Homo sapiens: one gene and its partners. The protein of the gene in region 7 purifies or fractionates together with the protein of the main gene of each other region. This does not show direct contact. Each region holds a gene or a part of one and is shown on either strand. Other genes may lie near its edges.

Region 1 (4,640 bases), on a different chromosome or scaffold from region 7:
CGAATATGTGGAAGCAACTTTAAACTGGGTAACAGGCAGAGGTTGGAATGGTTTGGAGGGCTCATAAGAAGACAGGAAAGTGTGGGAAATTTGGAACTCCCTAGAGACTTGTTGAATGGCTTTAACCAAAATGCTGATAATAATATGAACAATGAAGTCCAGGCTGAGGTGGTCTCAGACAAAGATAAGGAACTTCTTGGGAACTGGAGCAAAGGTGACTCTTGTTATGTTTTAGACATAAAGCAAAGAGACTGGAGGCATTTTGCCCCTGCCCTAGAGATTTGTGGGACATTAAACTTGAGACAGATTATTTAGGGTATCTGGAGGAAGAAATTTTTATGCAGCAAAGCATTCAAGAGGTGACTTGGTTGCTATTAAAGGCATTCAGTTTTAAAAGGGAAATACAGCATAAAAGTTCAGAAAATTTTCAGCCTGACAATGCAGTAGAAAAGGAAAACCAATTTTCTGAGGAGAAATTTAAGCTGGCTGCAGACATTTACATAAGTAACAAGAAGCTGAATGTTAATCACTAAGACAATGAGGAAAATGTCTCCAGGGCATGTCAGAGACCTTTGTGGCAGCCCCTCCCATCACAGACCAGGAGCTTTAGAAGGAAAAATGGCTTCGTGGGCTGGTCACAGGGTCCCTCTGCTGTGTGCAGTCTAGGGACTTGGTGCCCTGTGTCCCAGCAGCTCCATCCATGACTAAAAGGGGCCAAGGTACAGCTTGGGCTGTGGCTTCAGAGGGTGGAAGCCCCAAGTCTTGGCAGCTTCCATATGGTGTTGAGCCTGGGTTCACAGAAGTCAAGAACTGAGGTTTGGGAACTTACACCAAGATTTCAGAGGATGTATGGAAATGCCTGGATGCCCAGGCAGAAGTTTGCTGCAGGGGCAAGGCCCTCATGGAGAACCTCTGCTAGGGCAGTGAAGAAGGGAAAAGTATGGTGGGAGCCCCCATACAGAGTCCCTACTGAGGCACCACCTAGTGGAGCTTTGAGAAGAGGGCCACTGTCCTCCAGAACTCAGGATGGTAAATCCACCACGCACCTGGAAAAGCTGCAGACAATTCCAGCCTGTTAAAGCAGCCAGGAGGGGGCTATACCCTGCAAAGCCACAGGGGCGGACCTGCTCAAGGCTGTGGGAGACCACCTCTTGCATCAGTGTGACCTGGATGTGAGACATGGAGTCAAAGGAGATCATTTTGGAGCTTTAAGATTTGACTGCCCCACTGGATTTCAGACTTTCATGGGGCCTGTAGCCCCTTCGTTTTGGCCAATGCCTCCCATTTGGAGTGGCTGTATTTACCCAATGCCTGTATCCCCATTGTATCTAGGAAGTAACTAACTTGCTTTTGATTTTACAGGCCCATAGGTGGAAGGGCGATGTTTCTTTCTGGAGGCTCCAGGGAGAACTCTGTTTTCTTACCTTTTCTGGATTCTAGAGGCTTCCCACAATCCTTGGCTTAAGGTCCATCTTTAAGCTTTGTCTCTGATGAGACTTTGGACTGCGGACTTTTGAGTTAATGCTGAAATGAGTTAAGACTTTGGGTGACTGTTGCGAAGACATGATTGGTTTTGAAATGTGAGAACATTTAAGAGGGGCCAGGGGCAGAATGATATGGTTTGACTTTGTCCGCAGTCAAATCTCATCTTGAATTTCTATGTGTTTGGAGAGGTACCCGGTGGGAGGTAATTGAATCATGAGGGCAGGTCTTTTCTGTGCTGTTCTCATGATGGTGAGTAAGTCTCATGAGATCTGATGGTTTTATAAAGGGGAGTTTCCCTGCCCAAGTTCTTCTCTTGTCTGCCATCATGTGCGATGTGCCTTTCACCTCTGCCATGATTATGAGGCCTCCCTGGCCATGTGGAACTGTGAGTCCATTAAACCTCTTTCTTTTGTAAATTGCCCAATCTTGGGAATGTCTTTATCAGCAGTGGGAAAACGGATTAATATACTAATTTATAGCTAGTAGGTAAAAAGCCAGGGACTTGCCATTAGCGTTGGAAGTGGGGTTGTGGGGGCAGTCTTGTGGAACTGAGCCCTTAACCTGTGGGGTTGAATGATATCTCCAGGTATATCATGTCAGAATTGAATTCAATTAGAGGATACCTAGCTTGCGTTCAATGCAGAATTGCTTGCTGGTGAGGAGAAATCCCTATACACATTTTGGTGACCAGAGGTAAAGCATTTTATGTTGATTCTTGAGTGAGAGAGTAGAAATAACACTGGTTTTTTCCCTATGTCCTTACAACCACCAATTGGATACATTGTTTCAGTATTTTGAAATTTTTCATTTAATTTTTATAAATTTTCTTTTTAAATTTTAGATTCTACAATATCTCCAATTCTTCAGTTTATTCCCTCTTACTATGTATAAGTATTTCCCCAAGTTTCACTTTATCTTTCTATTACTTTTTTTACATAATAGAGCTATAAAGGCAATTCACAATTCTCTCTTTTCTCATATATAATATAGAGCATATTATAAATACTCTACTTTGGAAAATTATTCTTTATAGGAAATTACAGATAATATTTGATGAAGAAAATCGAATATAATCATTTTTCAATACTTAGGATAACAGATTCAGGCAAAGATAAAACATTAAAGGAAAAGTTAGTGAAAACTATTAATATATAGTGGAGGCATCACGTTGTTATGAACTTCATTGATCAATACTGATACCACTAAAAATGGAACAACATGTAATTATGTGCTCAATGTGATGAATATGAAGTAGACTGCACCACTCTGCAGTACAGTCAGGAAATAAGAAACCAAGTCCAATCAAAATAGCCCTAAAGCTACCTTCCAGTTTATAAAAAGTATGAAGAATAGAGGGGCAATTAAATGATACCATAAAGAGTCAAATACAGGGCATGCAACATAGCTGCTGATTGGATTTATTCAACATGTCAGTGGCATGAATACAATAGGAGGCAGGTAGGGAGAAGGCACTACCCTGAATTATGAGACTGAAGAGATATAATAAACAAATGCAATGTGTGGACTTGGTTGGGATCTTCATTCAAAGACCAACTATAAAAAGACATTGTTGTGAGAATTGAGGAAATTTGAATGAGAAATGTATTTTTATCTAATTTGTTAGCTGTGATAATAGTATTGTGGGAGTAAGAAGCTATTCATATTTCTATATATATATACCAAGTACATAGGAGTGAAATAATACAAAATCTGGAATTTGCCTTAAAATTCCTCTGCAAAATTATAAAAAAGAACGATGACAAACTAAAAAGGTGTAGTATTCTTCTATGGCTGCTATAACAAATGACCAAAAAACATAGTGACTGAAAATAACCCACATTTATTATCTTACAGTTCCATAGGTTAGAAGTTCAACATGGGTCTCATGAGATCAAAAGCAAGGCCTTGGCAGGGTGACGTTTCTTTCTGGAGGTTCCAGGGGGAACTCTGTTTTCTTACTTTTTTTAGATTCTAGAGGCTTCCCACAATCCTTGGCTTAAGGTCCATCTTTAAAGACAGCAACGTTTCATCTCTCTACCTATTCTTTCATCCTTACATCTTTCTCTAACTATTCCTTTTCTTCTGTCTTCCACTTTTAAGAGCCTTTTTGAGTCTATTGAGGCCAACTGGACAATCAAGGATTATCTCCCTATGTTAAGGTCAATTGATTAGTGACCTAATTCCATCTACAATCACAATTCCTCTTTGCCATATAATGTAAAATATTCATACCTCTAAGGATTAGGACATGGACATCTTTGAGGGTCATTAGTCATCTTACCACAGGAAGGAAGGAAGGAAGGAAGGAAGGAAGGAAGGAAGGAAGGAAGGAAGGAAAGGGAGGAGAGGAGAGGAGAGGTAGGAGGGAAGAAGAAAAAAATAGTATGAAAAAATCTTGATAAATTTGAAAACTGGGTGAATAATATGTGGAATTCTCTCTATTTTTGTTAATGTTGGAAAATTTAATAAAAACAATGAACAGTGATGACTTCGGTGAGAATTTATGTCACCTGCCTCAAAATTTATGACTTCAATAACACCTTGTATGTAATATTTTTCACCATATATTCTGATGTTGGAAACAATCCCTTCTGCCTTTGTATTAGTCCATTCTCACACTGCTATGAAAAATACCTGAGACTGGGTAATTTATAAACAAAAGAGATTTAATTGACTCACAGTTCTGCATGGCTGGGGAGGCCTCAGGAAACTTACAATTATGGCAGAAGGTGAAGCAGGCGCCTTCTTCACAAGGTGGCAGGAGAGAGAAGAAAGGAAAAGTAAAGGGAGAAGAGACCCTACAAAACCTTCAGCTCTTGTGAGAACTCACTATCACAAGAACAGCATGGGGGAAATCATCTCCATGATCCAATCACTTTCCACTAGGCCTCTCCCTTGACATGTGGGTATTATAATTCAAGATAAGATTTGAATGGGGACACAAAGACAAACCATATTATTCCACACCTGACCAAATCTCTGGTCTTCACTTTTCAAAATCATGCCTTCGCAACTGTCCCCCAAAGTCTTAACTTGTTCCAGCATGAACTCAAAAGTCCAAGTCCAAAGTGTCATCTGAGACAAGGCAAGATCCTTCTGCCTATGAGCCTGTAAAATCAAAACCAAGTTAGTTATTTCCAGGATACAATGGGGGT
Region 2 (5,259 bases), on a different chromosome or scaffold from region 7:
TTTAACTTAGAGAGGAACCACAAAATTGTTTGCCCAGTGGCTGCACATTTATCATTACCAGCAACAATGCCGCATGTTCCTGTTTTCCCACATTCTAACATTTATTATTTTGCTATTTAAAATAATAATAATAATAAGTATCCTACTGGGTATAAATTGCTGTCTCTTTGTGATTTTGATTTGCATTTCCCTGATGACTAATAGTGTTGAGCATCTTCTCATGTGTAATTTGTGATTTGTATGTCTTCTTTACAGAAGAATCTATTCAGATCCTTTCGTTATAAAATTGGTTTATTGTTTGTTTTATTATTTAGCGGTAATTACTGTTTATTTTATTTTATTATTTTGTTTTATTTTTTGAGATGGCGTCTTGCCCTGTTGCTTAGGCTGGAGTGTGCATTGGTGCAATTTTGGCTCACTGCAACCTCTGCCTCCCAGGTTCAAGCTATCCTCCCACCTCAGCCTCCTGAGTAGCTAAGATTACAGGCATACACCACCACACCCTGCTAATTTTTTTTGTGTGTGTATTTTTAGTAAAGATGGGGTTTCATCATGTTGGCCAGGCTGGTGTCAAACTCCTGACCTCAAGTGATCCCCCTGCCTCAGCCTCCCAAAGTGCTGGGATTACAGGATGAGCCACCATGCCTGGTCTTATATATTTTAGATACAAGTCATTTATGAGACATATTATTTGCAAAAATAATCTTGCACTGTGGCTGTCTTTCAAATTTCTTGACTGTGTTCACTGAAGCAAATTTTTTTTCAATTTTAATTATGTCCAGTTTATCTTTTTTTTCCTTTATTAACTTGTGCTTTGGTGTAAGAATTAAAAATCTAATACTTAATTCAAGGTCACAAAAATTTATTCTATATTTCCTCCCAAGAGTTTTATAGTGTAACCCTTATATTTGAGTCTTTGGCCTATTTTGAGTTAATTTTTGTATTTTGCATGAGGTAGGGGTGGAAGTTTTTTGTTTTTTTGTTTTTTTTTTGCATGTAGATACCAAGTTGTCCCAGTACCATTTATTGAAAATAGTTATTTCCCCTTTTGTCTTGCCTCCTTCTCAGAAGTTAATTGGCTGCAAATTAACTTTTGTGAGGGCTTATGTCTGGACTTTGGATTCTATTTCATTGATCAATATTTATATCCTATGCCAGTACCACATAGACTTGTTTATTGTAGCTTTGTAATAAGTTTTAAAATTTGGAAATGTGACTCTTCAAACTTTGTATACTTCAAGATTGTTTTGGCTATTCTGGGTCCATTACATTTTCATATGAACTTTAGAATCAGGTTATAAATTTCTTCAAAGTAGGCAACCTTAATTTTGATAAGGGTTGCATTGAATAGTTTGATTATTTTGAAGAGTGTTGTCATCTTTATAATACTGTGCCTTCTGATGCATAAAATGCCTTTCACCAGATGTCCTTTTAAAGAAGTCTGTGTTTACTGTTTGTGATGTTCAGCCTGGCTCAGAAGTTTTAAAACTCTAATGTGTGATTAGTAATATTATACAATCTTTAAAATAACTGTCTATAATTTATTAAGTGTGCATAACATAACTCTAGAATATACATAAATGTCACCATACCTCCATTTGTGATTTTTCAGATTCTTTAATTCTGATGCTAGGGACTAATTTCAGAGGATTGGGTAAAATACTCAGGTTTCACAATCTCTCTAAATATTCATTTTACAATGTAAGCTTTAATTACTTATTTGAACAAATTGTATTATTATTTTATATTTTAATTTATAAGCCAAGTTTATCTGACATTTTCAGATATAATATATGCTTTCAAGTCTGTTTATCTTTTATTATTACAATTCAAAGGTAGAAGCTTTATTTTTTTATATCCCTGGAAATTATTATAGTCTATAAATTTTTTTCTATAACCTTGTAATTCCTGAAACATTTATGAACTATATGAAATATTGAAAGCTGCTATCTAATGTTTTCCCATTTTACTTGTATTTTTTCACCATAATATTTATTACTGTTTTTAATTAGGATATTCTATTTGTTCAATACTAAGCATTTTAGAAGGAAAGTAGAAAATTACAAAAAACAAGCACATCAACCATTTCAGTCAGAAAAAAATAGTTAAGATGTAAAATACTAGGATGAGGATTAGCATAAAAAGATGTAGATTCCATGCAAAAACTGACAGCAAATTAAAGAAAGTGTACTGGAAACAATTCTTTTTTGGATTTAACCTTCCTCTACTTTCCTTATATTTTTCACTAAAATAAATGAATAAATAGACATAAATAAATGAATAAATGTAGGAAGAAGGTCATATTTCAACACTAATTTTAGTAATGCTTTACATAGGAGTTCTTATAAAATATTTACTTAAAATTCACAATTTACTAGATGTAGTCATATAGATCTAACACAGCGCTTAGAGACAAACTTTATTGGGGCCTTAATGGATTTATAGGAATATAAAGTTATACAACAAGAACAGGATGTCACCAAAAGAGTTCACTGGTTGGCTGCTGCAGGACCATCTCACAGGCATTGTTTGCTTTGGTAAGTTCACCATGATCCAGGGCATGGCCTTAAATCTCAGAGGTCTTACAACCCGATCTTGCCCATGTCTTAGAATTCATCGAAATTCAGGAAGTGAAATCGCGCTGATTACATCATAAGACTGAAAGATACAGAAAGAACAAAAGTTTATTGACTTATAATGAGAAATTCCATTATCATACAGGTCAGATATGTCTGTTGAGCAGAAAACACCCCAATTTCCCTATTAAGCAAGTTAAAGAGAATGCAAAATTATTAGATGAGTGCTTAATAAATATTAAATCAAAGGCATACAATGTCAATAACCTGCATCTTTTTGGTATCTAATGTATTTGAATGCAAAATAATTTATCTGTTAGGTGGACCAGATGTTTCTATTATCTTAGGCATATTTCTCCCCCAAAAAGTACAGGGATGTCTACCGCTATTACTCTTGTTTTATTAGGCTTCCAAAACTAATCAATCAGCCTCATTGTTCCCTCATAGCCCCTTGACAAACTCCTATATTCCTTGGAAATTTTATATTTATTTATTTATTTACACAAATAATACATGAATAAATACATGAATACAATCTAACTGTATATAATTCAAACAACATAGACATAATTCTTCTTACTGCTAAACTTTTACCATTCCTCAGTCTTTCTCCTATTTACAGAAGAAAACATAGTTATCAATTCTGTCTAGACCTTTTTATTTCTATTTAAATGTACACATATATAGTATTTATAATAATATAATAATTTAGATTTGGAGTTTATAATATAAATTAGATCATCCTAGCATACACTTCGGCAATTTGTTTTTATTCACTTATAAATGTCTTAATAATTTTTAATATAAAAATAGATCAGTCTCAATATTTCAATGGCTTCAAAATATTGCATCGTGTTACAGTATAATTTTAACTGTTGAAAGATGTTCAAATTCTGTTGAAAGATATTTAATATGCTTGCAACATTTTTACTACAAGCAAGCCAATTTATTGATATGTAGAATTATTTCCATATATTCTACAAATAAAACACAAGTCAAAACTTACAAACATTAAAATTACGATAGAGATAAAATACTTTAGAAACGTACAATTTTATAGACAGTAGATATTTAACCAAATCCTTTCTAAAACTGAGAATTCTGGAGACTTTTTTGATTGTGGCAAATATGATGACCTAATATTAAAGTCAACTATATTTATTATTATTATTGGCCATATATTTTTGTCTCCTATGAATTGCCTGTTCTTTGACTATATTTCTATCAGGCTTTGTTTCTGTATTAACATAAAGAAATGTATTATATATTCTATGAATTAATGGCATCCATTATCTATCTTTTAAATGGAACCACATTGTATATAAATAGTCTTTAAGTTTACTTATGCTGTTTTTCTTCGTATAAAATTTGCATGTTTTATAAAAGAAAATTATATTTAGAAATATAATACGAAGGCATTAAAATGAGGAAAACAACATGAAATGTATAAAAGAGAAGATTAACAATTTCTTCCAGAAAAACAATTCTAAATCTGTGGAGGTTAAAAGATGTTAAAAGTATGGAATAAATGCCTAATAATTTTTTCCATAACCAATCAAAGACACATATACTTACCAACATGTAACTCTTTCTGTTTGTTGTTACAAAAAATGAGTTTGTATTATACACATTACTCCGAACATGTTTTATTTATTTAATAATATCTCATAGTAACCACATAAACTTAAATATTTTAAAAATATCTGCACAAAATTCCAGCAAATGTGTCCACCAAAACATAGTAATTCTCAAAATGAACATAACTGAGACAGTTTCCAATTGTTTTCACAAATATGCAAACATATTCTCAGATGGTATAATAAAAAAGTTAAACAATTTGTGGATTACCATTTCAAATGTTTCAGTAAACAATTCTCCAAACACCAATGTATGAGAGACAAGCTAATCACCTCAACAAGAAATACCTGTTATCATACTTTAAATTTCTATAAATGATAAAGAAAACATAGTATATGTTTGATTTATTGTACCTTAATAGAATTTTAAAAGTGGACAATTTTTTAAGAATTTAGTAATCCAAAATTTCTTAGTCATGATGATCTCCTCATTTTGATGTAGAAAAATAAATTTTAATTTAAATGAATCTCTATAAAGGGTCATTGCGTATGAATCATTTTAATCATCTTTGCAACATAGGTTTAAATCTCTTTACCAGATACTATACTGTATTTTGGTTTAAAATTAAGTGTTTTTAGCATTTTTATTAAAATATTTTCATTATCAAAGAGTAAATAATTTATTGATGGCTTTCAAATTTTCCTGATTTCTCAGAAAGATCTATTTAAGCCAAGTCATATAGTCTATAAAATCATGAATTTATATTAAAATGAGTTGATTTATCACTACTTTAAGAATAAATTTCTCAGTGTAGTAAAAATTGTGTATAAGATATGACAGAAATGTAAAAAGCATTATAGAATGAAGTAAAGGTTAAATATATATTCCAAAAATATATTCTCTATTAGCTATTAATGACACATAAAATATGACATTTCTTACTATCACATTTGATCAAATTAAAAAAAAAAAGAAATACCCCAAAATATGATCAAGAGTCTAAGGTGAACAGCGGAAGAGAAGATGTGGTTCACCAGGTATGGTGGCTCAGGTCTGTAATCCCAGCACTTTGGGAGGCCGAGGTGAGCAGATCACGAGGTCAAGA
Region 3 (4,640 bases), on a different chromosome or scaffold from region 7:
CGGTGACTCATGCCTGTAATCTCAGCACCTTGGGAGGCCAAGTCAGGTGGATTACTTGAGCCCACAAATTCAAGACCAGCCTAGGTAACATGGTGAAACCTCATATCTACCATAAATACAAAAATGAGCCGGGTGTGGTGGTGTGTACCTGTAGTCCCAGCTACTTTGGAGGCTAAGGTGGGAGGATCCTTTGGGCCCAGGAGGTTGAGGCTGCAGTGAGCATTGAATATACCATTGCACTCCAGCCTGGGCAGCAGAACAAGACCCTGTCTCAAAACAAAAACAAAAACATGTACAGATGCTTCTTGACTTGTGATGGGGTTATATCCCAATAAACCCATTGCAAGTTGAAAATATTATAAGTTGAAAATGGATTTAGTACACCTAACCTATCAAACATCATGTCTTAGCCTTGCCTACCTTAAGTGTCCTCAGAATACTTACCTTAGCCCACATTTGGGCAAAATCATCTAACACAAAGCCTATGTTACAATGAAGTCTTGGCTGTCTCCTGTAATTTTTTGTACTGTAGTGAAAGTGAATGGTTGTATGGGTACTCAAAGTATGGTTCCTACCAAACACGTATCTCTTTTGCACCATCTTAAAGTCGGAAAATCATTAAGTCAAACCATTATAAGCCGGGGACCATCTGTATTTGACTTTGGAGTGCTTTCAGAACATTTGGTGGGCATTTAACTATTTGTTGAGTTAATGGATTACATTTGCTCATTCTGATATTACTTTGTATAGACCATCCAGAGAATCACCAGTTACGAAGAAGTAAGTTGACTTTTGTGTGAGGATATTCTCAAAATGAAAAATCAGCTGATGGGCCAAAGTATCTTAAAGTCTGTTTTAAGTAAACATTGATCTCTGTGCTTTAGTGCCTTTTAGAATAATTATTCATGTTTACTTCCTTTCAGACCTCTAACCTAAATCTCTATTTTATTTCATGTTTCCCTAAAGACTCACTAGTGGGCATATTTTTACGTGCATTTGATGAGTTGACTAGTGGTTTTTAATGATTTTCCCTGATATGAATGGCCAAAAAACAGATGTCAGTCTGTTAACCTGTTGCATTTGTGGCTATTAAGAGTGTTTTCTATGTGTGCTCTCCTGCTTTTGAGCCAGAAGAGCAATTTCAATTAAATTTTAAAGTGGTGAAATTGGAATGGAATGTGTAAACTGACAGAGGTCATAAGACTAGTGAAACTGCTGGGATAGGTGATAGAGAAGCCCAAAAGCAGGAGGCAGAGTTGATTTTGGACATTTTTCTTAAACATTAGATGGGATTTGTTGATGGGAATTATTGTTTGTGGTAAGATCATTTGAAAAGTTTTCTTTGCTCTGTGTGCATTATTGGCACCCTCTACAGCTTTGTTAGAAAGTTGGATAGGTAATAAGAACCCAGGACTGGCAGTGGAGATGGCACTTGGAGGGATATGTGTTACTGATTTCCCCGTAATGAAGGAGAGAGGCTAGACCAGGTGATTTTATTGTTTTTTGTTTTCCAGTGCTGAAAATTGTATGACTCTCTCATATTTTGGTTAAGGCTGTTGTTATAAGATACTGGTCACTTTAATCCTTGCATAGAAAGCAGTTTTTAAAGTTAATCTCTGCCTTTTAAAATGGTACAAAATTTGAAGTATTTCAGCCTTTTATAAGCTGAATATACTTTTAATGTTCCAAAGAATAATTTCGTTTGTTTTGTTGTTGTTGTTTTTTGCTTTTGGAACAGGGTCTTGCTCTGTTGGCCAGGTTAGAGTGCAGTGGCATGGTCATGGCTCACTGCAGTCTCAAACCCCTAGAATCGAGCGATCCTCCCTCCTCCCATGTAGCTGGGACTATAGGCACGTGCCACCACACCCAGCTAATTTTTTTTGGTGTTACTCTGTTGACCAGGCTGGTCTCGAGTTCCTGGCTTCAAATGATTCTCCTGTCTCAGCCTCTCAAAGTGCGGGGATTACAGGGATGAGCCACCATGCACACTCCAAGGAGTAATTATAACAGTATTTTATAATTATTAACCATTTATAAAAAGATTTTTTTAGTGTTTTGCTTAAAATAATGGATAGCATGAACAAGAAAATTGAAATATTACTTTGTATTAAAACAACATTTTATTTAATCAGAGAAAAACTGGCAAAGAGAGTAACAAATTTTATATTGATTTGTTACTTGGTTTAAGAAGAAACATCAATTTTGATATATAGTTATATAAGTAGAATTAGAATGCTTCAAATTTGCCAGATAATTGCTTCAGTACTTACTCTTATCTTTGTTTATAATCCTCTCCTGTCATGTACACTTTTAATTATTGGAGAATTAAAAATTGCTATTTTTTAAGTAGTCCTTAAATAATTGTTGAATGCCTGAATGATTGTTCATAGTTTAGAGAAGAAAAAATGTTTTAATGTGATCATGATTTCTAATCTTTCTTATAATTGGTGGTATTGCCTTTTATACTTCTCCATGAAAAGGTATTATAATTAAGATGTTGTATCTTAGTGTGATTTAGTAGTATTTGGAATTCCTTATAATAGAAAACAGAGCAATTGTTTTAGGTTTGAATACCTACATTACTGAACTTTCTAGAGTCTCTGAAAATTGAAGAGCAAAACTTGAATAGCACCCCTAAATACATTCTGATTTACAAAGGATGCCTTATCAAAGTTTATATTATGCTGTTTGGCTTATTTTTTATATTATATGTATGTATAATATGTATATATTATATATAATATGTATATATAATAAATATAATATGTATATAAATATATATATAGTATTTATATGTACTCCAGACTGGGCAACAGAGTGAGACCCTGTCTCAAAACAGATATGTATATCTATATATATCTCTCTCTATCTACCTATCTACCTATCTGTCTATCTATATCTGTCACCCAGGCTGGAGTACATGTAATTATACTATCTTATACTATCTGTCTATCTATAATAGATCTATATATCATATCTATATATATAATATATATATATATGTTTTGAGACAGGGTCTCACTCTGTCACCCAGGCTGGAGTACATATAATTACATTGTGTATATACGTGTGTGTGTATATATATATGTATGTATATAGTATCTACTATATATAATATATAATATATATTATTATTTTGGACATAGATACTATTTATATATAGTATATATCTATATATTATCTATCTATATTATCTAATTAGATATCTAATTAGATCATATAGATATAGATACTATATATACTATATTATATATAGTATATTTAGTATATATAGTGTATATAGTAACTATATATTATATATAGTATATATATAGATACCTGTTTTGAGACAGGGTCTCACTCTGTCATCCAGGCTGGAGTGCGGTGGCATGATCACTGCAGCCACTCACTGCAGCTTCTAACTCCTAGGCTCAAGCGATCCTCCCACCTTAGCCTCCCCCAGTAGCTGGGACTACAGGTGCATGCCACCATGCCTGGCTGGCTTATTATATTGCTATGTATTCTTTTTGTTTTTATTGTTGTAGGATACCCTCTGGTTTCATAGGGGATAATCCTTAAGAGTAGAAAAGTTCACAAATTTGTGTGGTGCTAATTTTATAAAAGAGAGATTTATTTTAGGTACAAATATTTATCTAGTTTTTATTCTAAAATCCTTGGCTTTTCTGGCCCGTTGGATTGCTTTTATGAGTGCTAATTTCTTCTTTAATATCTTTTTGGCTGGGTATGTGGTGGCTCATGCCTGTAATCCCAGCACTTTGGGAGGCCGAGGCAGGTGGATCACTTGAGACCAGGAGTTCGAGACCAGCCTGACCAACATGGCAAAACCCCATCTCTACTAAAAATACAAAAAATTAGCCGGATGTGGTGGCATGCAGTTGTAGTCCCAGCTACTCAAGAGGCTGAGACATGAGAATTGCCTGAACCCAGGAGGCAGAAGTTGCAGTGAGCCAAGATCATGCCACTGCACTCCAGCTTGGGGGACAGAGTGAGGCTTTGTCTCAAAAACAAACAAAAAACTTTTTAATAATTTGTGACTTCTGGCTGTTTCCAGACAGAAAGGGTTAGCAGTCTCCCATTTTTAACCAGGAGAGAGCATTCTTGAGCATCTGTAGGAAACAGGCACTAATTAAGGAAAGGGCTAAACTAGGATAGATCTTGGAAGCAAAAAATAGTTGAATTTAGGATACTTTGGCAGGAGTGAAACTGTTAATCCCAAATCTTCAAATGTGAGGGTTTCCTATGCATGTGAATTTATGTGCACTTCTGATTTTAGTACAGCTTAATTAACACTGCAGCCCAGTTACTGTTTAGTTCATTGCATAGTACAGTACTGGGCTCTAGTTCTGGGTTGGATCCTGCCAGTTACATGAGCAAGGCACATAACTTTTGTGGATTCATCATTGGCACTAGTAAATTAAATGGGCTTAAGTAAGGGGATAAATTAAGTTCACTCTTTGAGAGCAGACCAGCATATCCCTGTCTGCTTCTTGCAAACTCATTAGTTCTTTGAAGTTATCTAAACAGATTTTGAAAGTTATGTTCCACCATAGTGTAGCCTTCTAAAATAAAGATTACATTTTAAATTAGTTGCCACTTTAACATTGATGCTCCCAGAAGATACATTGTGTTTATCCTGGAGT
Region 4 (4,640 bases), on a different chromosome or scaffold from region 7:
ATGTGTCTGTTTTTATGCTAGTTTTGGTTACTATAGCTCTACAGTATAATTTGAAGTCAGGTAATGTGATTCCTCCAGCTTTGTTTTTTGCTCAGGATGGCTTTGGCTATTATGGGTCTTTTGTGGTTCCATATAAATTTCAGGACTGTGTTTTTCTATTTCTGTGAAGAATGTCACTAGTATTCTGATAGGGACTGCACTGGATCTGTAGATTGCTTTGGGCAATAAGGACATTTTGACAATACTGATTTTTCCAATTCATGAGCATGGAATATCTTTCCATTTTTTCATGTCCTCTTCAAATTCTTGCATCAGTGTTTTACAGTTTTCATTGCAGAAATCTTTCACTTCTTTGGTGAAGTTTATTCTTAGGTATTTCATTTGTAGCTATTGTAAATGGGATTACTTTCCTGATTTCTTTTCCAGATCATTCACTGTTGGCATATAGAAATGCTACTGATTTTTGTATATTTATTTTGTATCCTGCAATGTTACTGAAGTTGTTTTTCAGTTATAATAGTTTTTTGGTGGAATCTTTATGTTTTTCCAAGACTCTACGGTTTTAGAATCTCCTGGTAAGACGAAGGAGTACTCATTTACTCACTCCCTCAAAACACTGGATCTTAGCAGTCTTTTTGATTTTTTACAAATCTGATTAGTGATTTTGTATTTCTCTGAGGATGAATATTTTTCATTTGATTACTGGCCTTTTGTATTTTTACCCCTTATAAATTGCCCCAGTTTTTGCCTATTTTTTTTCCCTATAAACAAAAAGATTTGTAGCTCTTTATGTATTCTGGATATGAATCTCTTCCCTCTTCAAAAATATTATTTTTCTTCCACTCTGTGCCTCCCTTTTGCTTTGACATGCAGAAAGCTTTAATTTTTGTGTGATCAAATCTGCTAGTTGTTCTTTTAAAATTTATTATTATTAATATTATTATTATTATTAGATAGGGTCTCCTCTGTCATCCAGGCTGGAGTGCAGTGGCACAATCACAGCTCACTGCAGGCTTAACCTTTTGGACTCAGGTGATCGTCCTACCTCAGCCTCCCAGGTAGCTGGGACCACAGACACACACCACTACGCCCAGCTAATTTTTTGTATTTTTAGTGGAGACAGGGTTTTGCCATGTTACCCAGGCTGGTCTTAAACTCTTGGGCTCAAGTGATCCACCTGCCTTGGCCTCCCAAAGTGCTAGATTTACAGGTGTGAGCCACTGTGCCTGGCCTAGTTGTTTTTTTTATGGTTTCCAGATTTTATGTCTTGCTTAGAAAAGCCCAAGAAAATAAAAATATTTTCCTGCATTTTATTCTAATACTTTTATAGCTTTTATTTTCAAGTTAGATTATTTAATCTAGCTGGAATTTACAACTCAATAATGAAAAGACAACTCAATTTAAAAAACATGCAGAGGACTGACTAGACATTTTTCCAAAGAAGACATAAAAATGGCCAATAAGCCCATGAAGAGATGCTCAACATCATTCGTTATTAATGAAAATCAAAACCGCCGGGCGTGGTGGCTCACGCCTGTAATCCCAGCACTTTGGGAGGCCAAGGCAGGCGGATCATGAGGTCTGGAGTTTGAGACCAGCCTAGCCAAGATGGTGAAACCGCATCTCTACTAAAAATACAAAAACATTAGCTGGGCGTGGTGGTGGGCGCCTGTAGTCCCAGCTACTCGGGAGGCTGAGGCAGAAGAATTGCTTGAACCTGGGAAGCGGAGGTTGCAGAAAGCTGAGATCGCACCACTGCACTCCAGCCCGGGCAACAGAGTGAGAATCCGTCTCAAAAAAAAAAAAAAAAAAAAAAAAAGAAAATCAAAACTGTAAGGAGATACCATTTCACATTTTTTGAGTCCAATATATCTCCTTTGTTGACTTATAAGCTATAACTCTTTATTGTGTTATTTTATTGGTTGCTTTGGGGTTTAACTTACAACAGTCCACCTTCAAGGTGTGTTACACTACTTCACACAGTTTAAGAACTTTACAATAGTGTACTTCTGTTTATCCCCTTCTGTTATTGTTGTCATGCATTTTGCTTTTACATAGTTATAAATCCCATAACACAGTTATTTTGTTTATATGACATATAATAAGATTAATAGAGACCCAGCCTTCAAGTAGGATTTATCCTAGGAGTGCAGGGTTGGTTTAACATTTGAAAATCAATAGGCCGGGCATGGTGGCTCATGCCTGCAATCCTAGCACTTTCGGAGGCTGAGGCGGGTGGATCACAAGGTCAGGAGTTCGAGACCAGCCTGGCCAATATGATGAAACCTTGTCTCTACTAAAAACGTAAAAAATTAGCCAGGTGTGGTGGCATGTGCCTGTAATCCTAGCTACTCGGAAGGCTGAGGCAGGAGAATCGCTTGAACTCGGGCGGTGGAGGTTGCAGTGAGCCGGGATCACGCCACTGCACTCCAGCTTGGGCGACAGAGCGAGACTCCATCTCAAAAAAAAAAAAAAAAAAAAAAAAGTAAATAAAAGATCAAGACAGTAAATTTTATGTTTGTTTTATTGCAGTTATAAAAAGTTAAACATAACACTTAACTTGTGATTCAGCCATTCTATTCCTATATATTTATTCCAAGAAAAAGGGAAATATATCCATACAAAGGCTCGTACACAAATATTCATAGCAACTTATTTGCAACAGTCAAAAATCAGAAGCAACCCAACATTCATCAACAGGTGAATGGATAAACAAATTGTAATATACTTATACAATGGAATACTACTGAATGATAAAAAGAATTGAACCTTTGATACAGGTATGAACATGATGAATCACTACACTGAATGAAAGAAGTCAGACAAAAAAGAGTACATACTTCATGATTCCCTTTGGATAAAACTCTAAAAAATGTAAACTCACGTACATTAACAGTGACAAAAGCAGGTAAGTGGTTCTTGAGGAAGAGAAGTGGGACAGGTAAGAGAGGGATTACCAAGGGACAGGAGGAAACTTTTAGGGGTGATAGATATGCTCACTGTTTGTTGTGATGGTTTCACAGGTGCAAACATACATCAAAACTCGTCGAATTCTATACTTTAAATATGTGCAATGTATTGTAAGTCACTTACCTCCCTAATAAAGCTGTTACAAAATATATACAGGTTATTTAAATTTTTATACCTTAAGGGAAATAAGTTCAGTTACTCAAGATCTCCATGTCTTTCTTAATTTTATTTTACTATGATTCTTGTTTTTTTTTTTTTTTTTTTTTTTGGGATGAAGTCTTGCTCTGTTACCTAGTCTGGAGTGCAGTGGCGTGATCTTGGATCACTGCAACCTCTGCCTCCCGGGTTCATGCGATTCTCCTGCGTCAGCCTCCTGTGTAGCTGGGACTTGACAGGCATGCACCACCACGCTCAGCTATTTTTTTGCATTTTTAATAGAGTTGGGGTTTCACCATGTTGGCCAGGCTGGTCTTGAACTCCTGACCTCAGGTGATCCGCCTGCCTCGGCCTCCCATGGTGCTGGGATTATAGGTGTCAGCCACCGCGCCTGGCCTACTTTACTATAATTCTTAATTTTACTTTACTATACTTACTTTACTGTATTGTATTTTATTTACTGTAGCCTTTTATTTAAAGGAAAAAGAACAGAAATGTCTCTTTTGCTAGTTAAAAAAATTTATGGGCTACAATTCTTTATAATTTTTCTGAAAGACCACCAAATAATAATAAACATGAGGTTGGGTAGGTTTCCAAGTATATATAACCCAGAAAATGGTGAATTCATTCTGTTCTTGGCATGATGTTTTCTCTTTTTATTAAGAACTCAGACTTTCCTAAAGAAATTCCAAAAACAAATGGTGAATTGGGGCTATTCTAAAAGTTGCTCTCTCTTCCACAAAGGGTAGTAGAAGCAATACAATGACAGAACAATTTTGTTTTCATATTTAATTTTATCTTACCCATCAATTTGTTGACATTTTGTTTCTGTAGGTGGCCAATGAAGTGCCATTTGATCTCAGGACACAAAGACAGAATCTGAGGGGAAAAAGGTAACCATGTGTAATTCAGATTTTATAGAGGCCTTGCTGGCTCAAACGCCTCGTGCACTCCCTGTCACCTTTCACATCCACTCTCTGTTCCTTAAATGTAATAAACTATCACAATCTTCACCCGGCCTCCTAATGAGGTAAAAGGATAGAGAAAAATCTAAGGCTTCTGTTCTGTTTTCCTTCCTTGTTCCCATCAATTCCCTCCATCTTTCAGATATTGCCCATCTAGGATGAACTGATTTAAGCTTTCAAATCTTGAAAAGATCCAAGATTACAGCAAGCTCCTGAAACCACCATTTCCAAACAGCCACCAATGAGAAAACGACAGTCTGAACAAAGAGAAAAATCTAGCTGAGAATTACTTGGGGCTCAAGGAGGAAGCTGACATTTCTATCCCTGGCCCAATCTAAAGTCAACCACCCTAAAACTGCTGTACAACTCAACCACCAGGATGGGTCTAATTTTCAACTAAAGAGCCAAGATTTAGATACAAATTAAAGAATTCAGCTATCTACTTACTTTGGGATTTGATGCTTTTTCTAGCAGTTCCTGAACCTAAAAGGTCAAAACAGAACAAGTCAGAAGCCTGGCAATCATGATGCTTCCAAAGGGCTTCAGGAA
Region 5 (4,640 bases), on a different chromosome or scaffold from region 7:
GGATCAGCTGAGGTCAGGAGTTCGAGACCAGCCTGGAAAGCACGGCGAAACCCCATCTCTACTAAAAATACAAAAAAATTAGCCGGGCATGGTGGTGTGCGCCTGTAATCCCAGCTACTCAGGAGGCTGAGGCAAGAGAATCGCTTGAGCCCGTGGGGCGGAGGTTGCAATGAGCCAAGATTGTGCCATTGCACTCCAGCCTAGGCAACAATAGCAAAACTCCATCTTAGGAAAAAAAAAAAAATGCATAAGGTGAATCCAACTATTAAAAAAAAAAAATCAGACAAACTCAAATTGAAGGAAAGTCTAAAAGTAATGGACTTGTAAATTTCAAGTGTCAAGATCATGCAAGTCAAGCAAAAATGAGGAACTATTCCAGACTGACAAAGACTAAAGAGACAAGAAAACTAAATGTAATACATATATTCTAGACTGGATCTTTTCTAAAAGAGAGTATCTGAACAACTAGCAAAATTTGAATGGGGTCTGAGAATTAAATGATAGCAAAGTACCAACATTAATTTTCTGATTTTGATAGCTGTATTGTGACTATGTACAAAAATAACATTATTTGTTGGAAATATACACTAAATTATTCAGGAATGATACAGCATCATCTTGGAAACTTATTCTTAGAAGTTATATGTATTGTCCTGCCCTTAAACATTTTTCACAAATTTGAAATTATTTCTAATCAGAAAAAAAAGTTAAAACTATTTCCACCATAGATAAGGTTCCACAGTATTAAAAAATAATCCTATCCTTTGAAATGTAAATATCCTCAAATCTCAAAATAGTCATTCTCATTTGTCTTTAATATTTTATTAATAATCTATTCCTAGCTAAAGCTAACCAAAGAAATTGTGCTTATAAAGGAAACAGAAGAATAGATATATCAACTCATTGGAGATTTGTAATATCTAACCCTTTAATTGGTTCTCCAAGTATTTCCTCTGATCTTCATAAGCACTACAAAATTCCCTATTCATCCAGAACTCTTGGAACCTCCTTGAATAAAGATTCTCCACACATAAGAGAATCAATATGCAAAGTGTTCAAAGCAGCCAAGTCAGTCATTAACTCACCAGATTCCAAGAATAATAGCGATCTCTTCAGCACACAGATCCGGCATCTGGAACTGTTCACAATCTGCTAACTTTATGTCATTCAGAATGGTGTCATCATTGAGCTCAAGATTCTAGTAGAATACAAAAGAAAATACTTAGACCAAAAATTAAATTTTATTCATTCACCAGAATGGCATGTAATAGATTGCTAGAAAGGATAAAGTTAACTTACCTGTTTGACATATGGTCAATAGGCTATTTCTTGTGAAACACATATTTGGAAACAATTTACCTTCCAGAAATGAAAGATGTGCCATCTATACCTCAAGAATGCACTAACAATGACAATAATAGGGAATAACAGCTATCACTGATTGAGCCAAGTATGCAAAAGCCCCTCTGCAGATAATTTTATATACATTTTTCAAATTCTTCCTCACAACAATCATAGACAATAGGCATTTCTATCCTTATTTACTGATGAAAAAACAAAGAATCAGATACTTGAAGCTCATCCAAGATCACACTCAAAGTATGTGATAGCATCAGGATTCAAAACTGGATCTTTCTATTCTGCCTCTAAATTCTAATCAAAAACATCAACTTCCCAACTCTGTGTCTCAGCAATATAGTGTGATCAGTTGAGAAATTTCTCACAAATAGCTTGTTATCAATGATGGAAATGCCAAACTGTGACAAGCTCATTCTAAAATTTATATGGAAATGCAAATGATCGACAATAACCAAAACAATTTTTAAAAGAATAAAATATGAGGAAGTACTTGATTTCAAGAATTACTATAAAGCCCAGACAGTATAGTACTGGCATAAAGACAGACATATAAAGTGAATGGAATAGAATACAGTTCAAAATTTTAGACCCATGCATATATGATGGATTGATTTTCAATATAGCTACCTAGGTGTTTCAACAGGTAAAGCCTTTCAATAAATGAAATTAGAGAACTTTGGGAGGCCAAGGTGGGAGGAAGCTTGAGGCCAGGAGTTTGAGATCAGCCTGAGTAACACAGCAAGACCCTGTCTCTCCAAAAAATAAGTAAGTGAATGAATGATGTCAGAACAACTGGATATCCATTTGGAAAAAAAAATGACCCTTCACGTTTATCTCAATCATACACAAAAATTAAATCAAAATTAATCACAGACCTTAATATACAAGCTAAAGCTAAAAAAACTTCTAGAAGAAAACATTAAAAAAAACTTTGTAACCCTGAGATGGAAAGGCAGTCAGTCCTTAATTAGGATACAAAAAGTATGAATTATAAGAGAAAAACTTCATAAATTAGACTTCATCAAATTAAAAACTTCTGTTCTCTGAAAACATTGTTAAGACAAAAAGTCAAGCTCCAGATCCAAATATACTGACAAAACATATATCTGAAAAGGGACTTGCATCCAGAATATGGAGAACTCTTAGAACTCAATAAGAAGACAAACAACTCAAATTAAAAATGGGCAAGAGAGGCCAGGCATGGTGGCTCACGCCTGTAATACCAGCACTTTAGGAGGCCAAGGTGGGTGGATCACTTGAGGTCAGGAGTTCGAGACCAGCCTGGCAAACATGGCAAAAACCCCGTCTCTACCAAAAATACAAAAATTAGCCAGGCATGGTGGCGTATACCTGTACTCCCAGCTACTCGGGAGGCTGAGGCAGGAGAATCACTTGAACCCGGGAGGTGGAGGTTGCAGTAAGCTGAGATCATGCCACTGCACTCCAGCCTGGGCAATAGAGCGAGATTCCATTTCAAAAATAAAAAAAGAAGAGAAAAAAAAAAACTTACGTTCACACAAAGACTTACATACATATTTTCTAGGCAGGTTTATTAGTAATACCTGCTAGAAATAACTTAAATGTCCACCAACAGTTCATATTGGTATTTCAACATGGATGAATCTTGAAACCATTAAGCCAGACCAAAAGATTATACACTGTATGATTCCATTTATTGGAAATTCTAGAAAAGACAGATCTAATCTATGACAGCAACTGACTGACTGCAAAGAACTATGGCGGCACTCTTTGGAGAAACTTTTTTTCATTGTGGTGGTGGTGACACGCGTCTAATTGTTAAATCTCAACAAAGTGTAATTTAAAATCGGTATATTTTATATAAATTATTCCTCAATAATCTTGGGTTAAATTTTTTTCTAATTCAACAACAACAAAAAAAGAGGACTTTAGGAGCCAAATGAAGCTAGACAGAAGCCAGGTGCGGTGGCTCATGCCTGTAATCCCAGCACTTTGAGAGGCTGAGGCGGGCGGATCACCCGACGTCAGAAGTTCGAGACCAGCCTGGCCAGCATGGTGAAGCCTCGTCTCTACTAAAAATACAACAACTATCCGGGCGTGGTGGCATGTGGCTGTAGTCTCAGCTACTCGGAGGCTAAGGCAGGCTACAGAATGAGACACCATCTCAAAAAAAATAAAAAATAAAAAAATTAAAATACATATTTTCACATTGTAACATTTCTTTCTTTTCTTTTTTTTTTTTTTTTTTGAGAAAGTCTCACTTAGTCACCTAGGCTGGAGTGCAGTAGCATGATCTCGGCTCACTGCAACCTCCACCTCCTGGGTTCAGGCGATTCTCCTGCCTCAGCCTCCCAAGTAGCTGGAATTACAGGCACACACCACCACGCCCGGATAATCTTTTCTATTTTTAGCAGAGATGGGGTTTCGGCATGTTGGCCAGGTTGGTCTCGAACTCCTGACCTCAAGTGATCCTCCCACCTCGGCCTCCCAAAGTGCTGGGACTACAGGCGTGAGCCACCACACCGGGCCATGTTGTAACATTTCCAATCAGGATATGTTTTGTAATCACTATAAATGGTATAGTAGTGTTCCTTTCCTTTTCCTGAAAAATGGTTATTAAACAGATGGTGTATATTACAATCTAATAATGTGTTTAACACAAGGTAATATGATATATAACCAACTTAACAATTCTCTTCCACCCATTAGAATAAAGCTATGTTTCTATCTAATCCATACCTACAGCATACAACTTGTACTCTCCATCTTCAAGTAGTAATTAACAAAGACCATAAGATTATCTGAATGTATTTTATTTCACATACAAAAGATTAAATTCTGGCCGGTGCAGTGGCTCATGCCTATAATCCCAACAGTTTTGGGAGGCTGAGGAAAGTGGATGGCTTGAGCCCAGAAGTTCGAGACCAGCCTGGGCAACACGGTGAAACCCCATCTCTACCAAAAATACAAAAATTAGCCAGTCTCATAACCTGGTCTCTAAATAGATAAACAGGTAAAATTTATTTTTTATTTATTGATTTATTTTTTTTTTTGAGATGGAGTCTCACTCTGTCGCCCAGCCTGGAGTGCAGTGGCACGATCTCAGCTCACTGCAAGCTCCGCCTCCCGGGTTCACGCCATTCTCCTGCCACAGACTCCGGAGTAGCTGGGACTACAGGCGCCTGCCACCACTCCCAGCTAATTCTTTGTATTTTTAGTAGAGACGGGGTTTCACTGTGTTAGCCAGGATGGTCTCCATCTCCTGACCTCATGATCCGTCCACCTCGGCCTCCCAAAGTGCT
Region 6 (3,831 bases), on a different chromosome or scaffold from region 7:
AATTAAGGTTGTTAATCAGCACACATCAAAATAGGGAGATTATCCTTATTCAAGTGGGCCTGCTGCAATCACAGGGGGTTCTTACATGTGGACACGGTGGGTGGGAGTGTCAGCGTCAGAGAGCTACAGTGGAAGGAAGGTGTGACCGGCCATTGCTGAAGACAACAGGGCACCAGACAAGAAACACAGTGGCCTCTAGAAGCGGGAGAAGGCAAGGAAATGGATTCTCCCCTGCAGATTCCTGAAGGAACACAGCCCTGCTGTCACCCTGATTTCAGCCCAGTGAGACCCACAGCAGACTTCTGACCTCCAGGACTGTAATAAACTGGGGCTGTGTTAAGCCACTGCCTTTGTGGAAATGTTACAGCAGCTGTTGGAAACTCACAAAAAAGGGGAACAGGTCCTCTTTGAAATACTCAGACCCCCGGATGCCCTTGCAGCGAAGGCGGCTGCGTGTCCCCAGGCTGGCTGGTGAGGCCCAGCAGATGCTGCCGGCTTTCCAGAAAAGCCATCATTTTGCAGATAAAAAGGGACACACTCCAGAGATGCAGCTTTTTGCCTTTACCCAGCCCCCTTCTCACTCCCACCTTCTTCCTGCCTACAGCACGGATGAAAGACTAGAGGTGGGGCAGCCAGGCAGGGCCAAGATGATGACTGCCACATCCTGAGGACAGCAGAGTGCAGCAGACAGGAGCCAGGACTGCTGCACTGTGGAGTTGCTGCCCGGCCCCGGGAGAATGGACTGCCTCCAACTTCCTGTGACGTGAGAGCCATAAACGCTGCTGGGCCAAGCCTGGATCCCGTGGCATGTAGCCACACACAACCCAAGTGACATGCAGCTCTTGCGATGACAAGAAAGGAGCCAGAAACCTGGCTGGCGCTGGGTGTTGGGGGATCTCAGGGTGGAGGGGGCCCAGGGTGCTGGCTTCACACTGAGCAGCACTCCTCGTTGGTCACAAGGGAATGTGGGTAAGTACCAGGGCCCTGGGAAGTGCCCCCAACAATTCGAACCACACAACTCCAGGGCACAGCTGTTGGCGGGCGCACAAGCACCACCAGCCTCACACACGCAGATGCGGTCCCCCCTCCAGAGAAAACACACCAGCACACTGCACACACAGCATGGGTGCATGTGCACACATGTATACATTTATTGCATAAAATTCATCATAGCACTTTCCCCCATATTTTTATAATCCAAAAGGAAAATGATTCAAGAAAGGATTTCATTGTGCTCAGTTTCAAAAAATATAAAAATGGACATCAGATTAGAGATACAAGTTCATACGCTGAACTGAATTGTACATACCAACTGCCTGGCTATGGAAACCCGTGACTTGACTTAGGGGTGCTGATGACATGATCTCGACAAGAACCCCCTAGCAACTCTCAGGTGGAGGCAGCACAGGGATGCGGTTCCTGGTGAGGAGGGTCCTCACTCGGTGACCACACTGCCTGGGCTCACAGCTGGAGGGCTCACCCATGAGGGACACGGGTGGACACCCACTGCTTCACATGCCTAATTCACATTAGAAACATGTAAAGCCATTCAGTCTGTGCAATAAAGAGATCCTGTATGAAATCCACTCATTCCTTGGAGGGAAGCTGGCCCGGAGGCACGCTCTGGTTGACGGGTGACGCACAGTCCTCCAGGGCCTGCATTGCATCCATGACACAGACACACGTGAACACCCAGCCCGCCGGTCCTAGCAGCCAGCTGTGAAAGCTGTGTCAAGTCACGGGGGTTCCTTTCTAACAGCTAAAGCTCAAAGGCATACTGGACCCTGAGGGAAAACAGGAGAGCCTGAGATGGGAAGGGAAGAAAGGGATTTGCACCTTCACAGAGCAAAATGGGACAACGGGACGGGGAGGTTGAAGACAAGACCTTGGCTCAGGAGTGTGTCTGTCTTCAGCACCAGCCAGCCCCACCGTTCCCGCTGCACTGTGTGTGCAAAGACACACACTCTCACCACAGTGCCACACCTGCGGCCCAGACACTCCCTCCTGGTCTCTGAAGGCCAGAATCCCACTCGTGTGGAAGATCCAGGTACCCACCAGATTTAACAAAACAGAGAAACGATCCCTCCCCAAGCCTACAGAACACTTGGTGCGAGCATCCTTTTACAACAGCTGTAGGTTTCTGTATAATTTCTTGAGCACACAAAAGTTACAGTGCACACGGGTGCGGCTGAGTGACACGCCAGCCAGTCTGACTCAGAAGCCCTGCAGCTCAGGGATGTCCCGGTACAGATCCAGGGTCTCGGGGTTCGAGAAAGCACCTCCTTGCTCCACGGCTTTTCCAGCGATGATCTGTTTGACGGCAACTTCCACTTTCTTGCCGTTGAGCGTATACTGCGAGGGAAAGGTAGAAAAACAGGAACATTTAAACCTGAAGGGGGGAAAATCCGCAGCCCTGGATATATCCAGGCCCCAAAGGCCCAGCTCCACCTGGAGTGCCAAGAGTGAATGGGTCTCGGCTCTAAGATGCCCCTCTTCCCACCAGGTCTGCAAACGTGCACCGAAGTACGGTGAACTGACCACTGTCTCTCTGTTTGGGGGATAAAACCTGTTCTTCTGAAAGGCACTTTCAAGGACTGGTGCTGAAACTCAACTCTAACACTCTCCACACCCCACCCCCGCCCCCTGGCACGGCTGTTGAGAAACTGAGGCTATTTCAAAGTTGCCCAGAGGTCACCATGAGCATGTTCATTTTTCTTTTTTTCTTTTTTTTTCTTTTTTTTTTTTTTGAGACAGAGTCGCACTCTGTCACCCAGGCTGGAGTGCAGTGGTGCAATCTCCGCTTACTGCAAGCTCCCCCTCCCAGGTTCACACCATTCTCCTACCTCAGCCTCCTGAGTAGCTGGGACCATAGGCACCTGCCACCACGCCCAGCTAATTTTTTGTATTTTTAGTAGAGATGGGGTTTCACCAGGATGGTCTCATGTTAGCCAGGATGGTCTTGATCTCCTGACCTCATGATCCACCCATCTTGGCCTCCCAAAGTGCTAGGATCACAGGCGTGAGCCACCGCGCCCAGCCGAGCATGTTCATTTTTCTAACGCTGCACACTCTACTGGGCCCCGTTGGGACCCACGACACGTGTCACATCCAAGCTGGCCTCGAGAGGGCCCTCCAGACACCCCACTGACCCCGGCAGTGCATATTCCAGATGGGAATATAAAAAAGAGTATCTCTCAGGGTTCAGGGTCAGCCTGACCAGGATAAAAATGCAGGCATAGACCATTCCTAAATCCCAGCAGACACCCTGGGCAAGAAAGTTTTCAGGGAAGATGTGGCTCCTGCCACCCCATCTGGGGGATGCTGGGTAAATTCCTGAACCTGAGTTCACTTCCTCGAATGAAAGTAGGGGTGCCAGCACCTAGGCTATAAGGCTGTGAGTCACTGGGTGAATGAATCAGTGCACACACAGCTTCAGAAGTGCCTAGCTACTATGTTTTATGATGATTTTACTTTTATTTATACTTTTTTACTTCTCTATATATTTTATCACGTTATTCTATGATAAAGACCATTACTTTATTGATATTGCCATTACTTCAGAAGTGGCCCAGCTTCCTAGAACTAGAGGCAAGAGTGTCCCCAAGCTCCCATGAACTCCTCCTCAGAGCCAGCCATCTGCACGGGACGGTGTGTTACTTCTTCTCACAGTCGGGCCCTTTCCAAACATTCAGAGCTCCAAGATTTATGGCACATGTGTTTCACCTTGAATCCAGAAGAGCCCTTGGCAGTGTTGGTGTGTTGTGGGCTAGGAAACTTCAGGAGCAACAGAGCCCAGTGACGAGTCCTCGATCACTGGCGCCTTTTTTTTTT
Region 7 (4,640 bases):
AAACACACATGAAATATAATTAGGTTTTTTTAATTGACTTCACCTGATAAAAGGCAGCCAATCCTTCTGTCTGTCATCAAACGTTTCTTTACAGCATTATTAAAAAGGATCCTGAGGTTGTTCTTCACAGTTTCTATCTCAAAACCTATAAACACAGCAGTAAATCAAACAGCTCCAGAAAATCTTGGGCTGGATTAGTTATTGAAATGAAATACACAATCATCAACATCTATCATGATGGTATTTACTCAATGGTGGAGTGTGCCAAATCTTAATGTGTTCCCTCCAAACAAAATAGGAAGTAGGTCTTGAAACTAAAATCATTCAAATGATGGGAGAATACAACTTAAAATTTTTTTCCCTTGGAGAAGGATGGGGAATAGGTGGGTGGGTGTCTGCTACCTGGAAAGAGTTTCTCCACATTGTCATAGAGGGCGTGCAGGGGTACATCCCGACAGTGATGATATTTAACCATTTCCACGGATGCAACTTTGCCATTTGGCTTTAAATCCAAAACTTCATAGTGTCCAGGAAGAAAAGGCTCCACTTTTAAAAAGGGAGTCGCGGAGTGCTTCAATGTAACAAGACCTAGAAATTCACAATGATACCTTTATTCAAATTAGGTAACCCTTCCCAATAACTTTCACGATTAGTTAACATCATCTACATTCCTATTTTCCCTTTTTAATACAAACACATACCCATTAAATAAGCAAAATAGGAAAAAAAATTTTCTATTTTCCTAAGCCCTACCATCTACTTACCTGAGAGACAATAATGGCACAGGGATATACTGCCAAATTACACTAACTTTTCGTAATTCAAAGAAATAGAAAAATCTCCAGTGTTCAATTTCTTCTTCTTAGATTTCTAATCAAGAAAACCTATTTTCTATACTAAAGCAAATACACAAAAGGAAAAGACACACTTATGAAGCAAAGGGATGAACTGGAGTCCTAATGTTATGATAGGCTGGGAGTCATTTATTTGTCATCACTGAGGTATTTTCAGAACACAGCCATGGTTCCCAGACCTTTAACAAGTACAATGATCCACTTTTACCTACTTTAAAGTCAGATAAGAAGACATCTATCCCTTAACTAGTTGTTATACACTATATGTGAATAAAACCATATAACTTAAATTTCCTCAATAAATTCTCACAGACAGTACAGTACCCAACCTCTCATCACCATGATCTTTGATACAAACATCAATGTTTTATTGTAGATCGTAATGGACTATCTACATGGAATACTCGTGATTTACAATTTGAGATTGTCTACCCAGCCAGTAACCTGTGTAGCACTGAATTCAAATACCAGAAAAAGGACCCAGATTCCCTCACCAGCCAGCAGAGCTCAAGTGAGCTACACAACCCGGATAGGGAATGGGGAGTAATTAAAAGGTTTTAAGCAGGCAATACTATAATCAGATGAGATTTTGACAGGTTATTCTAAAAGCACTGAGAAAAGAAAATTGTTGCAGTATTCCAGATGAGATAATTTGGTCTGGAAAAGGACAGTGTCAAGGATATAGAAAAGAACAATTAAGGAATTTCAGAGGGTAAGTTCCATATCAAGTGATCATCAGGCTCAAAGAAGGCCCAGGGGAGCAGGAGGCTGCTTTTCCCCAGTGTTCTCTTTACCAGGCTTTCCCAGCAGTCCTGGCAACTGACATATATATATGCTTGTTCTTTGCCATCTGATCACACTAGAAATGCCTGAAAATAAGCCAGTTCCAGTATTAGTACAAACACTGTGACTAGTGTCCTAAGGACCCCTTTGATTGATCTCATTATCCCTGCTTCAGCCAATATTAAATCTGAAAATTAAGTGAGAAAGAATTTAAAGAATGGCAAAAAGAGGCAGGGAGAGAGATATTAGGATGTTACTGCTGCACAGGTAAGGGATAAAAGATAAATGTCTTCCTCAAGTTTACCATCAAAAAGTGCTATGCATGATTTGCAAGTATTTTCTTCCAACTTGTGGGCCGTCTTTTCACTTTCTTGATGGTGTCCTTTGATGTGCAAAAATGTTTAATTTTGATGAAGTCCAATTCATTGATTTTTATTATTGTTGCTGGTCTCATATTTAAGAAAGCTTTGCCAAATCCAGGGTCATGACAATTTACTTCTATGTTTGCTTCTCGGGATTTTATAGTTTTAGCCCTTACATTTAAGTGGATTAGTTCAAAACTGATTCATTTGATCCTTTTTTTTTTTTTTTTTGAGATGAGTCTCGCTCTGTCACTCAGGCTGGAGTGCAGTTGCGCGATCTCGGCTTACCGCAAGCTCCGTCTCCCGGGTTCACGCCATTCTCCTGCCTCAGCCTCCTGAGTAGCTGGGACTACAGGCGCCCGCCACCACGCCCGGCTAATTTTTAGTAGAGACGGGGTTTCACTGTGTTAGCCAGGATGGTCTCGATCTCCTGACCTCGTGATCCACCCGCCTCGGCCTCCCAAAGTGCTGGGATTACAGGCATAAGCCATCGCGCCTGGCCTGATCCATTTTTCTGTATCCATAATTTTTGTATACGATGTTGGGTAAAGATTCAACTCCAAGTTTTGCATATGGTTACATATCTGGTTGCCCCTGTGCCAGTTTTCAAACTTCTTTCTCCACTGAATAATCTTGGCACCCTTGTCAAAAATAAGTTGATCATATATGTATGGGTTCATTTCTGACTCTCAATTCTATCCCACTAGTCTATACATCTATCCTTCTGTCAGTATTATATTGTCCTTATTACCATTGTCTTGTAGTAAGTTTTAAAATCAGTTAATATGAGGTCTCCTACTTTGTTCTTCATTTTCAAAAGATTGTTTTGGCTATTCTTAGTCTCTTGCAATTCCATATGAATTTGAGAGTCAGCTTGTAGATTTCACAAAGAACTCATCTGGGATTCTGATAGGGATCAAGTTAAATCTGTAAATCAGTTTAGGGAGGACTGCCATCTTAACAATGTTAAGCCTTCAAATCATGATCATGGGATACTTTTCCATTTATTTAGATCTCCTCTCATTTCTTTCAACAACATTTTATAGTTTTCAGAGTACAAGTTTTACACTTCTTAAATTTATTTCTAAGTATTTTATTCTTTTTGATGCTATTATAAATGAAGTTGCTTTCTTAATTTCATTTTGATTGCTCATTTTAAGTATGTAGTATTCAGTTAAAGTGTGTCAAATACCATTGATTTTTGTATATTCATCTTGTATCCTGCAACCCTGATGAACAGAAGGGATTTGTATCTAGAATACATAAGGAACTATTACAATTCAGTAATAAAAAGACAAAATAACTCAATTAGAAATGGGTAATTCAAGAATGGATAAACAAATTGCATTGCATGCAAACAAATGGAATATTATTCAGCAAGCACACCAACATGGCACATGTATACATATGTAACAAACCTGCACGTTATGCACATGTACCCTAGAACTTAAAGTATAATAATAATAATAATAAATGAGCTATCAAGCCATGAAAAAACACAGAAGAACTATAAATGTATACTGCTAGGTGAAAGAAGCCAGTCTGAAAAAGCTACATACTATATGATTACAACTATTATACGACATTCTGGGAAAGGCAAAGTGAGAGAGAAAGCAAAAAGATCAGTAATGACTGGGGGGTTAGGAGGAAGAGGACGGGAGGAAAGAATAAGTGGAGCACAGGAGATTTTTAGGGCAATGAAACTGTTCTACATAATACTGTAATGGTGGGTACATGGCATTAAACATTTGTCAAATCCAAAAATCTATAAAACACAAAGAGTGAACCCTTATGTAAACTATGAACTTCAGTTAATATATAAGTATCAGTTCATCAAATCTAATAAATGTAGCACAGTAATGCAAGATGTTAAGAGTGGGGAAAACTGGGCAGGGGCACTGTAGGGGGAGCATATGTGAACTCTCTGCACTTTCCTCTCAATTTTTTCTAAAACTGCTCAAAAAAAAAAATAAAGTCTATTATGTTTTTAAAATAAAATGATCCCTAACAGGAAAAAAAAATGGCAAAGGATCTGAACAAATATTTCTCCAAAGAAGATATACAAATGGCCAATAAGCATAAGATAAGATGCTGGACATCACTGTCAACAGGAAAATACAAATCAAAATCACAATGAGATACCACTTCACATACACTAGAATGGCTAGAATTAAAGTCACACACTGTTTGTGAAGATGTGGAGAAACAGAAATTTTAATACACTGCTGGAGTGAATAAAAAATGATGCAGCCATTTCAAAAATTAGTCTGGCAGTTCTTCAACTGAACATAGTTATCATGTGTCCCAGCAATTCTACTCCTAGATATACACCCAAGGGAAATGTCCACACAAAAACTTGTACACCAATGTTTATAGCAGCATTATTCATAATAGCCAAAAGGGGTAAATAATGTCCTAAATGTCCATCAACTGACAAGCGAATAAACAAAATGCAGTGTATCCATGTAATGGAATATCATTTGGCCATAAGAAGTAAGTACTGATACATGCTACGGCATAGACAAATCTTGAAAGCACTATACCAAGTGAAAGAATCCAGTCACAAAAGCCGGTATGATATATAATCCCGTTCATATGAAACATACAGAATAGGGAATCCAGAGGCAGAAAGACTGGTGAT

Evidence for each region.
Region 1: the proteins of ASNS (region 7) and KYNU fractionate together in Homo sapiens (co-fractionation; one large-scale study listed by BioGRID). This does not show direct contact.
Region 2: the proteins of ASNS (region 7) and NBDY purify together in Homo sapiens (co-immunoprecipitation; one study listed by IntAct). This does not show direct contact.
Region 3: the proteins of ASNS (region 7) and FAIM fractionate together in Homo sapiens (co-fractionation; one large-scale study listed by BioGRID). This does not show direct contact.
Region 4: the proteins of ASNS (region 7) and PLPBP fractionate together in Homo sapiens (co-fractionation; one large-scale study listed by BioGRID). This does not show direct contact.
Region 5: the proteins of ASNS (region 7) and TTC27 fractionate together in Homo sapiens (co-fractionation; one large-scale study listed by BioGRID). This does not show direct contact.
Region 6: the proteins of ASNS (region 7) and AACS fractionate together in Homo sapiens (co-fractionation; one large-scale study listed by BioGRID). This does not show direct contact.

Annotation. Positions count from the first base shown.
Region 1 is NC_000002.12:143,051,864-143,056,503, forward strand, and holds the end of KYNU (kynureninase), read left to right. Parts: 3' UTR 1-3,970; downstream 3,971-4,640. UniProt on the Homo sapiens protein: Catalyzes the cleavage of L-kynurenine (L-Kyn) and L-3-hydroxykynurenine (L-3OHKyn) into anthranilic acid (AA) and 3-hydroxyanthranilic acid (3-OHAA), respectively. Has a preference for the L-3-hydroxy form. Also has cysteine-conjugate-beta-lyase activity.
Region 2 is NC_000023.11:56,814,719-56,819,977, reverse strand, and holds the end of NBDY (negative regulator of P-body association), read right to left. Parts: intron 2,659-5,259; 3' UTR 799-2,658; downstream 1-798. UniProt on the Homo sapiens protein: Promotes dispersal of P-body components and is likely to play a role in the mRNA decapping process.
Region 3 is NC_000003.12:138,614,668-138,619,307, forward strand, and holds part of FAIM (fas apoptotic inhibitory molecule 1), read left to right. Parts: intron 1-4,640. UniProt on the Homo sapiens protein: Plays a role as an inducible effector molecule that mediates Fas resistance produced by surface Ig engagement in B cells.
Region 4 is NC_000008.11:37,765,645-37,770,284, reverse strand, and holds part of PLPBP (pyridoxal phosphate homeostasis protein), read right to left. Parts: intron 4,575-4,640; coding exon 4,539-4,574; intron 4,006-4,538; coding exon 3,930-4,005; intron 3,804-3,929; coding exon of another isoform or gene 3,751-3,803; exon of another isoform or gene 2,507-3,750; intron 1-2,506. UniProt on the Homo sapiens protein: Pyridoxal 5'-phosphate (PLP)-binding protein, which may be involved in intracellular homeostatic regulation of pyridoxal 5'-phosphate (PLP), the active form of vitamin B6.
Region 5 is NC_000002.12:32,668,830-32,673,469, reverse strand, and holds part of TTC27 (tetratricopeptide repeat protein 27), read right to left. Parts: intron 1,199-4,640; coding exon 1,086-1,198; intron 1-1,085.
Region 6 is NC_000012.12:125,140,613-125,144,443, reverse strand, and holds the end of AACS (acetoacetyl-CoA synthetase), read right to left. Parts: exon of another isoform or gene 3,516-3,831; intron 2,353-3,515; coding exon 2,215-2,352; 3' UTR 1,128-2,214; downstream 1-1,127.
Region 7 is NC_000007.14:97,858,811-97,863,450, forward strand, and holds part of ASNS (asparagine synthetase [glutamine-hydrolyzing]), read right to left. Parts: intron 589-4,640; coding exon 403-588; intron 146-402; coding exon 44-145; intron 1-43.